2 linked regions of the Homo sapiens genome follow. The protein of the gene in region 2 interacts with the protein of the main gene of each other region in a biochemical or structural test. Each region holds a gene or a part of one and is shown on either strand. Other genes may lie near its edges.

Region 1 (3,826 bases), on a different chromosome or scaffold from region 2:
ATGACATATATAATTATTACATAACATATATTACATTATATATAATATATAATGTAATAAATACATTATATGTAACATATGTAATAAGAAATACATTATATATAACATAATGTAATAAGAAATACGTTATAACATAAGAAATACATTATATATACATTATATATAATGTAAAATGTATATATAATATATATAATATATAATGTATAATGTAATAAGAAATATGGTTGGCAATTTTTTTTGACCATAGATCCATCTGTTAATTTCAAGGACTCTCAAAAATTAAATACAGATTCTGCTCACTAGCTCTTACAGGAAGCATTTCTCTTCCATTTGCCCCAATTAGACTGTTGCCTCAAGTGTGGAGACGGAAAGGAGATGCTTAATACTCAAAGAGACTTTAAGATCTCCTAGTTCCTTAGTTCCATTCTTAGTTGAAATTCTTAGCTCCATTCTGTTGAAAAATAACTACTACCTCCTCAACTCTCCAAACACTTCTAACTCTCAACTAGAGTATTTTGCAAAAGCATATTCTGGCCATAAGTGCTCCTCAAATTCACAGAAAACATTTCAAATTCCTATGAAATGGTCCTCTCAAGGACAAAAAAAAAAAAACAGAAAAAACACAAAGCACCTTTGAATTTTTACAACAGACATGAGGACTTAACAATAGATATGAGGCAGTTTAAGAAAAAAAATCCCAGAGCTGAGAAAAACTATCCTCAAATACCTATAATTTGGTAGTTGGCCAGATTAAATCGCCACAAGACCCAGAATTTCTTGGCATTGGGAACCTACTCCAACAAGAGTCAAATAACCGAAAGAATCAAAAGAGTAACACACTGCCTTCACAATCTTTGAGAAATTCCTACAGAAAATCAGATCCATGTGGATACATCTGAGATCAAGGCAACTAAGGTCTACAGAGGGGATGCACTGCCTGAGGTCATACAGATTAGTAGAGTGAGAATAACCTAGACACCAAATACCCCACTCAAAATGTGCACCTCATATAATTTCTCGTTGTTTACTCATTCCTTCTAGGCACATCTTCCCCAAGCTCAAAAGTCAAAAACTCAGAACTTGCTACTCTTACTCATGAAAGTTTCTGTGTCTGCTAAATAGCAGCACTGTGGAGAAGAATACAAGTTGTAGGGTCAGTCTACCCACATTTAAATCCTAACTCCATCACTTATTCACTGTGCATCTTCAGACTAGTTACTCAACCTTCTTAAGTTTCCATGTCCTTATCTTTAAAGCAGAGATAACAGTAGGGGCTGCGGTGAAAACCAATGAATACAGTAACAAATGTTAGTTATTATCATTAGTCTGCTCATGGCAAACCTATAACAAAAGCAGAAAACATCACAATGAGACTGTTATTCCAAAGCCTCTCCTCCAACATCCAGAAAAGATCTGTTGCCAATTATCTTCTGCTACTGCTATCCATGGCTTTTCCCATGAAAGTGCAGGTTTATCTCTCACGATTATCATATGAACCTCACATACCATGTCAACCGAAGCTGTCTAAATTTAAGAACCCTGAAGATGTGTTTTATCTCTAGATCTGAGCAAACACAAGATGGAGAATTATTTGACCCAGAAGATTTAAGACGGGGGGATTCCATTACAAAATAAGGTAAGCTAAAAAAATGAACTTCATGTGGTGAGAGAATAGTTCTGTATCTTGATCATGATGGTGCTTACACAAATCTACACATTTAATAAAATTGCAAAAAACACACACACACAAATAAGGGCATGTAAAACTGGTGAAACCTAATAAACTCTGAGGATTGAAACAAGGGCAACTTCTTGATTTTTGATCTCTGCATAACTGCTATGTAAAATGTTACCACTGGAGGAGACTGGGTGAAGGGTATACAGAACCTTCCTATACATTTTTTTTTTCAACTTCCAGTGAAACTAAGTACTTCCAAATAAAAAATTTAAATTTAAATAATTGAGCTGCAACATTCTTTTTAAACTTGATTTTGACTCTTAACAGTGGAGATTTTAAAATAAGAACTTAAAAAGTATAACCTTCTTTCATCTCAAAATCTACTTATCTATAAAGCCATAGCTAACCCATACAATTGTATCAACCACAAATGCTGTAATTAAAAATGAAGGATAATAAAAAAAAGTCAGTTACGACAAAATGAACTCCTTTCCTTTAGCTTTTTCTCCCAGATCTCAATTCATTCATTCAATACCAGAGGCCTACTACATGCAAAGCAATATACTGCTGCAATAAGACATTTTTATGAAGGCAGACTTCAAACAGCTCAACTCCCATTCTAAGGTTTGCATGTCTCTGCCTCTGTGAAACAGGCACGATTCCAAAAGAATCTACAAAATACTAGAAGAGCTCTACTAAGAGCATTTAACTGGTGAGACAGATAAAACATGTTTTTCTAAAGTTCTTTTTCATTTCAAGTTAAGGAAGATTTCAATGGCTGCATGCAATTCAGGTAATTACAGCAAAAATTTCATCCATCTCAACGCTCATAGTAGCAATGATTTTTCTGAATTATCAAAAATGACTAATGCCCACATTACAACAGAAGCCTCTCTGTGATAAGAGATAGCACTTAAGTCTAAGGTTTATGTGAAAAACTGAGTTTCTGTCTTGGAGAGGGTCTTTGCTATGGTTCAGATTTTAACTTGCGGCAATTTCACAAAGAATCTCAACGTGAGGGCGCGTGCGGTGGCTCACGCTTGTAATCCCAGCACTTTGGGAGGCTGTGGTGGATTACTTAAGGTCAGGAGTTCAAGACCAGCCTGGCCAACATGGTGAAACCCTGTCTCTACTAAAAATACCAAAATTAGCCGGGCATGGTGGCACACGCCTGTAGTCCCAGCTACTCAGGAGGCTGAAACGGGAGAATCCCTTGAAGCCAGGAGGCAGAGGTTGCAGTGCGTACAGATTGCACCGCTGCACTCCACCCTGGGTGAGAGCAAGACCCTGTCTCAAAAAAAAAAAAAAAAAAAGAATCTCAAGAGCCACACAGACATGAGTTTGAATATCATCTCTATTATTCAATGATTTTGCACAAAGTATTTAACTTTTCCAAATCTCAGTCTCCTCATCTATAAAATGGGGGTGGGATATCCACCTTGTGTTACTGTTACTGTGAAGTTCTAATGAGCTTAAGAAGATAAAGTGATTAGCACTCTTAAAGCCAAGAGCACCTACTGTTCTACCTTAACTCCAACTTATGGGTGGGAAAGAGACACGTGATAAAAGAGACCCACAGATCTTATTAAAGGTGAGTTTTAGTTTTTAGATTTGGGATTTTTCTCTTGTGTGCGGAGAAGCCCATCCTAAACATGGGCCTCCTTCACACACATTTGTCCCTGATCAGATAGGCTTCGGGTAAGAAGAATCAATCCTAAAGGATGCGAGGAGCAATGGATGCTCTCAAGGAAAATTAGACTTGAGACCTTGAAATCTGTAGCAAACGAAGAAAGAACATAAATTAAAATGGTGGGGGTAGAAACCAATTCAGTCCCTTTAATCATCTCAGAAAAATTCAGGAACCATGATGATGTGACTCCCCGAGATCCTGGAACTTGGTAACTTTCTCTATGTGTATCTCTTGTTATTCTTGATATCTTAAACAGGAAAAAGGCTAACTTTTGAGAGCAATCAGGAAGAGGAAAGCTGAAGAGACTGCCCTTCCCACCATGTACCTGATTAGATAGGCTTAGGGCAAGAAGAATCAATCATAAAAGATGCAGGAGCAATGGATGCTTTCAAAGAGGAAAAATTAGGCTGAAACCTTTAAGTCTGTAGCAAAGCAAGAAAGAAGATAAATTGCAGGCC
Region 2 (3,826 bases):
TGCCTGTGAAGAGCTGGAGGCTGCCTTATTGTAGTGCTGTTTCCTTGGAAACTGTAGTTAAGATAACTCTGGAATATGGAGTGCGTTTTGCTGTATTTACACTCAATCTGAGCCCACATGATGAGCACAGCGTTGTTAAATTAACTGTAGCATAAAGCTGCCCCCTTACGTATTTTAAGTTCCACCTAAAGGTTTCTCTTACATAATGAGCTGTGACCTAACTGGATGTGTAAACAGACTGTAACCTGCTTTTGTAACAAGCAGCAAGTCTCAGCCAATCACAGCAGCCGTACTTCAACTAATCACAGGCGGCCAGCTGTTCAAACCATGTTCAAACAAGGCAAAGGCCCACTTGTAACCAATCCGGCTGTTTCTGTACCTCACTTCTGTTTTCTGTACATCATTTTCCGTCCATAAGTCCTCTTTGGCCCCAGGGCTACACTAGTCGCTCTGAACCTAGTCTGGTTCCACAGACTGCCCAATTCATGAGTCATTCGTTGCTCAGTTAAACTCTTAAATTAATTCGTCTAAAGTTTTTCTTTTAACAGTATCAAAGGTTGGTGGCAAATTGAGGCTGCGGTTTCCCTGTGTCAGGGGGCTCTTCACTCGCATGCATGGTATATGAGTGATGGGGCAAGAGAAGCCGTGTGCCAGGGTAGCCACTGCCAGGCCTTATGATGAGACGAGGAGGGTTCCTGCTGTATTTCTTGTCCTGTACCTCCTCTGATGCTAAGGATTAGACCAGAGCTTGTTTTTGTCCTGAGTGGACCCAACTGGATCTGTAACTCTGTTAACACGTCTATTTTTCAGCAGTCTCATCAGGGCGTTCAACATATAAAAGAGATTAAAGGGGTATTTTATTAGCATAAAACATTTTATGTTTACATATTCAATATTTATATATTATTTTGTCAGACCAACGAAGCTGTTCTGCTAAACACAAACACTGGAAGTTAGAGTTTATGGGTGATTGTCTCATCGCTTTCAGTATTCAGTTTATTACTGTATTTCATTTTGACTGGATGTTAGGAAAATCCTGAGTTACAGAGATAAGTTAAAAATATCCATAGTTTTTACGCAAAAATTAGCTGGGTGTGGTAGGCACCTGTAATCCCGCTACTCGGGAATCTGAGGCAGGAGAATCGCTTGAACCTTGGAGGTGGAGGTTACGGTGAGCTGAGATTGTGCCACTGCACTCCAACCTGGGCAACAGAGTGACACTCCATTTCAAAAAAAAAAAGACCCTATATTTTTAAAAACTTGCTTAAAATTTCAGATTGCATTTCATTTATGATGAAGCAGAACAAAAATACTTTGTTTCTAGGTCGACTCACTACAGTGTGTAAAAACTTCTCACATTCTTTGGCCTGAACATGAAAGCCAGATAAACAGTATTCAGAACTCTCTGCTAAAACTCTCTCTTGCACTGTATGACAAGCTTGCTTCCAGTTCATCTATTACCGCCCTATTGATTCGGCGTTAGGCTCTGAGAGAAGTAAAGCTTGAGCGGAAAGCAGGCACTTGCTTATTGAAGGTGCTAACTTGTTGGTTTTGTATGAGTCAGCACAAATTAAGAGGAGAGGAGAACCATGCAGAACAAAGGTTTTCCTCAATAGTGTTTCAAATACAAGGTAATATTTATGCAAAATTGGAAGGAAAAGCTTTATTTTAAAGTCTAGCAACAAATGTTAATGAGTTGAGGCTCTGATGAGTCAGAATTTGGTATAGGATACATTTAAATATGTGCTTAAATAACATAAACATAAAATATATTTAAAATAGTGCGCATATACATGCATATGTGTATATATGTGTGTGTGTGTATGTGTATAAATGTGGAACTCTAATATCTCTGTAATCCAGCCTCAAAAAAAGGCACTGCCGTAGGCCACTTGCATGAACTCAGCTATTTGGTGACAATAAATGTCACAGCCATAAATTCAGATGTGCGTGAAATTTCAAGTTAAGAGGGAAAATTGGATATATCCAAAGATACATTTTGTGGTTGTTCCACAGTCAGTAACTGAGAAATTGCTAGCAGTTGGAATGAGGCCTGCTCTATTGGTAGCTTTTGAGACGAGGATGCTTTGAAGGCCTTCCTCCTGGGGTGCTGGAGACATTAGGCTCATAAAAGGCATAAAGGTCAGAACATCATCTTCTTCAAATAGTCCAGTGCCTTCAGCCTTTGAGTTTGAGCCTTGTGATAATTGTACTTTATTGTGTAATTACTTCAGGACTCAGTGGGAAGGTGGCGTGATGAGATGACTTTAGGACTCAGTGGGAAGGTGGCATTCCCAAACCAGTTTGCCTGGACTCAGAAAATGCACATACCTGCCATCCATATTGTTAGTTTATTTTATAACTTTCTAGTGATTATGAAATACATTAAATACTCAAATACAGTTTTCTTGGGATTGGAATCAAGCCAGAATAAGCCAAATTTTACTCTTATGTGATTTACCTTTAAAATGTGGTATGGTTTATACATCTGTGTGTGTTTATAGGTATGGAGATCAGAAGATGGATTTTTAAAAGCTCTTTTAATTTTTAACTTTTTATCTTGGCAGTTTTTAACATTATAAAAAGTAGAGAGAATAGTATAGTGACCTTCCATGTACCCTCACCTAGCTAAATCACTAGCATTTTGCCAATCTTATTTGAAATGGAAAGCAAAGGTCATTTCTTCTAAGTCTTATAGTATTTTTGGAACTGAATAGTGCAGCCAATTGTTATTTTAACACAAACTGCTCTAACTCACTTTCTGGAAATACCAGAGAAGTTGTGTAATTAGGTAGAATCTTCGTATACTCTAAGATAAGAATTTTTACGCAAATTTTTTTTAACTTGAATGGGAGGAATTATTCATGCTTTGACACTTGAGTTATCTGGATTTGTCTTGTATTCTGTTTTCTCAAAGGTGGAAGGAACAGCATATTTAAGTTCTTTTCTGTGGAAAACTCAGAAATTGAGTCTGTGGGAAGCACCTCGAGGACAGAACATGTTGGATGGTGGAGCACCTTTCTATACGACTTACAGGACAGCAGATGGGGAATTCATGGCTGTTGGAGCAATAGAACCCCAGTTCTACGAGCTGCTGATCAAAGGTAAGTGAACTTCACGCGTCTCCCCCAGTTCCCCTTTTGCTGTGGATGTTCTTTGGTTCTATTTTAAAGACTTTTGGCATCTAGGATGTCTTTTATTATATAGCCACTTTCTAATTAACCTAATTATAGCCATCAATATAATGTGGGGCATTTTCCATGGCTTTTAAATTGACCAGCAGTCTTACTAGTCTATAAAATAGCTGAGGGTTTTAAAAATAATAATCCCTTTTGTAGGATGTTCGGTGCTTTTATTACAGTTCACTCCTTGTGTTGGATAATCTTGACCCTGTGTGCCCAGATCTTACTCTTCCCTAGAAATGATCTCACATGGGTTGCTTTCCATTCAATATTCTACCAGCTCCTATTTCTTGGTAGATGTCCCTTATGGCACTTCAATGTCAGAAGTCACCAGAGCATGGAAAGATTTTGCCAAATGAGATTCTGTTAGAATATGTTACTATATCACTATGCCTTTGCAGATGACCTGTCTTGCAGATTCTTGCCTGCTTGGCAAGTTGTCATAAATTAGCAAGAAAATTTGGGATCTCTTCTTCCCTAATTAAATAATTGGATGGGAGTCGTTTTGTTCCTGAGAAATGTTTGAATTTAGAGTTCACTCTATAAATAATGTAGAATCTAAGAAGTTTTAGAATATACTCTGAAGTGATGTGAAAGCTGATCACAGTGCATTTACCTTTCTACTACAAGTTTAGAGTTTCATT

What was found.
Region 1: the proteins of AMACR (region 2) and PEX5 interact in a test that uses a peptide from one of them, tested with the Homo sapiens proteins (one large-scale study listed by BioGRID).

Annotation. Positions count from the first base shown.
Region 1 is NC_000012.12:7,192,400-7,196,225, reverse strand, and holds part of PEX5 (peroxisomal biogenesis factor 5), read right to left. Parts: intron 1-3,826.
Region 2 is NC_000005.10:33,997,919-34,001,744, reverse strand, and holds part of AMACR (alpha-methylacyl-CoA racemase), read left to right. Parts: intron 1-2,917; coding exon 2,918-3,104; intron 3,105-3,826. UniProt on the Homo sapiens protein: Catalyzes the interconversion of (R)- and (S)-stereoisomers of alpha-methyl-branched-chain fatty acyl-CoA esters.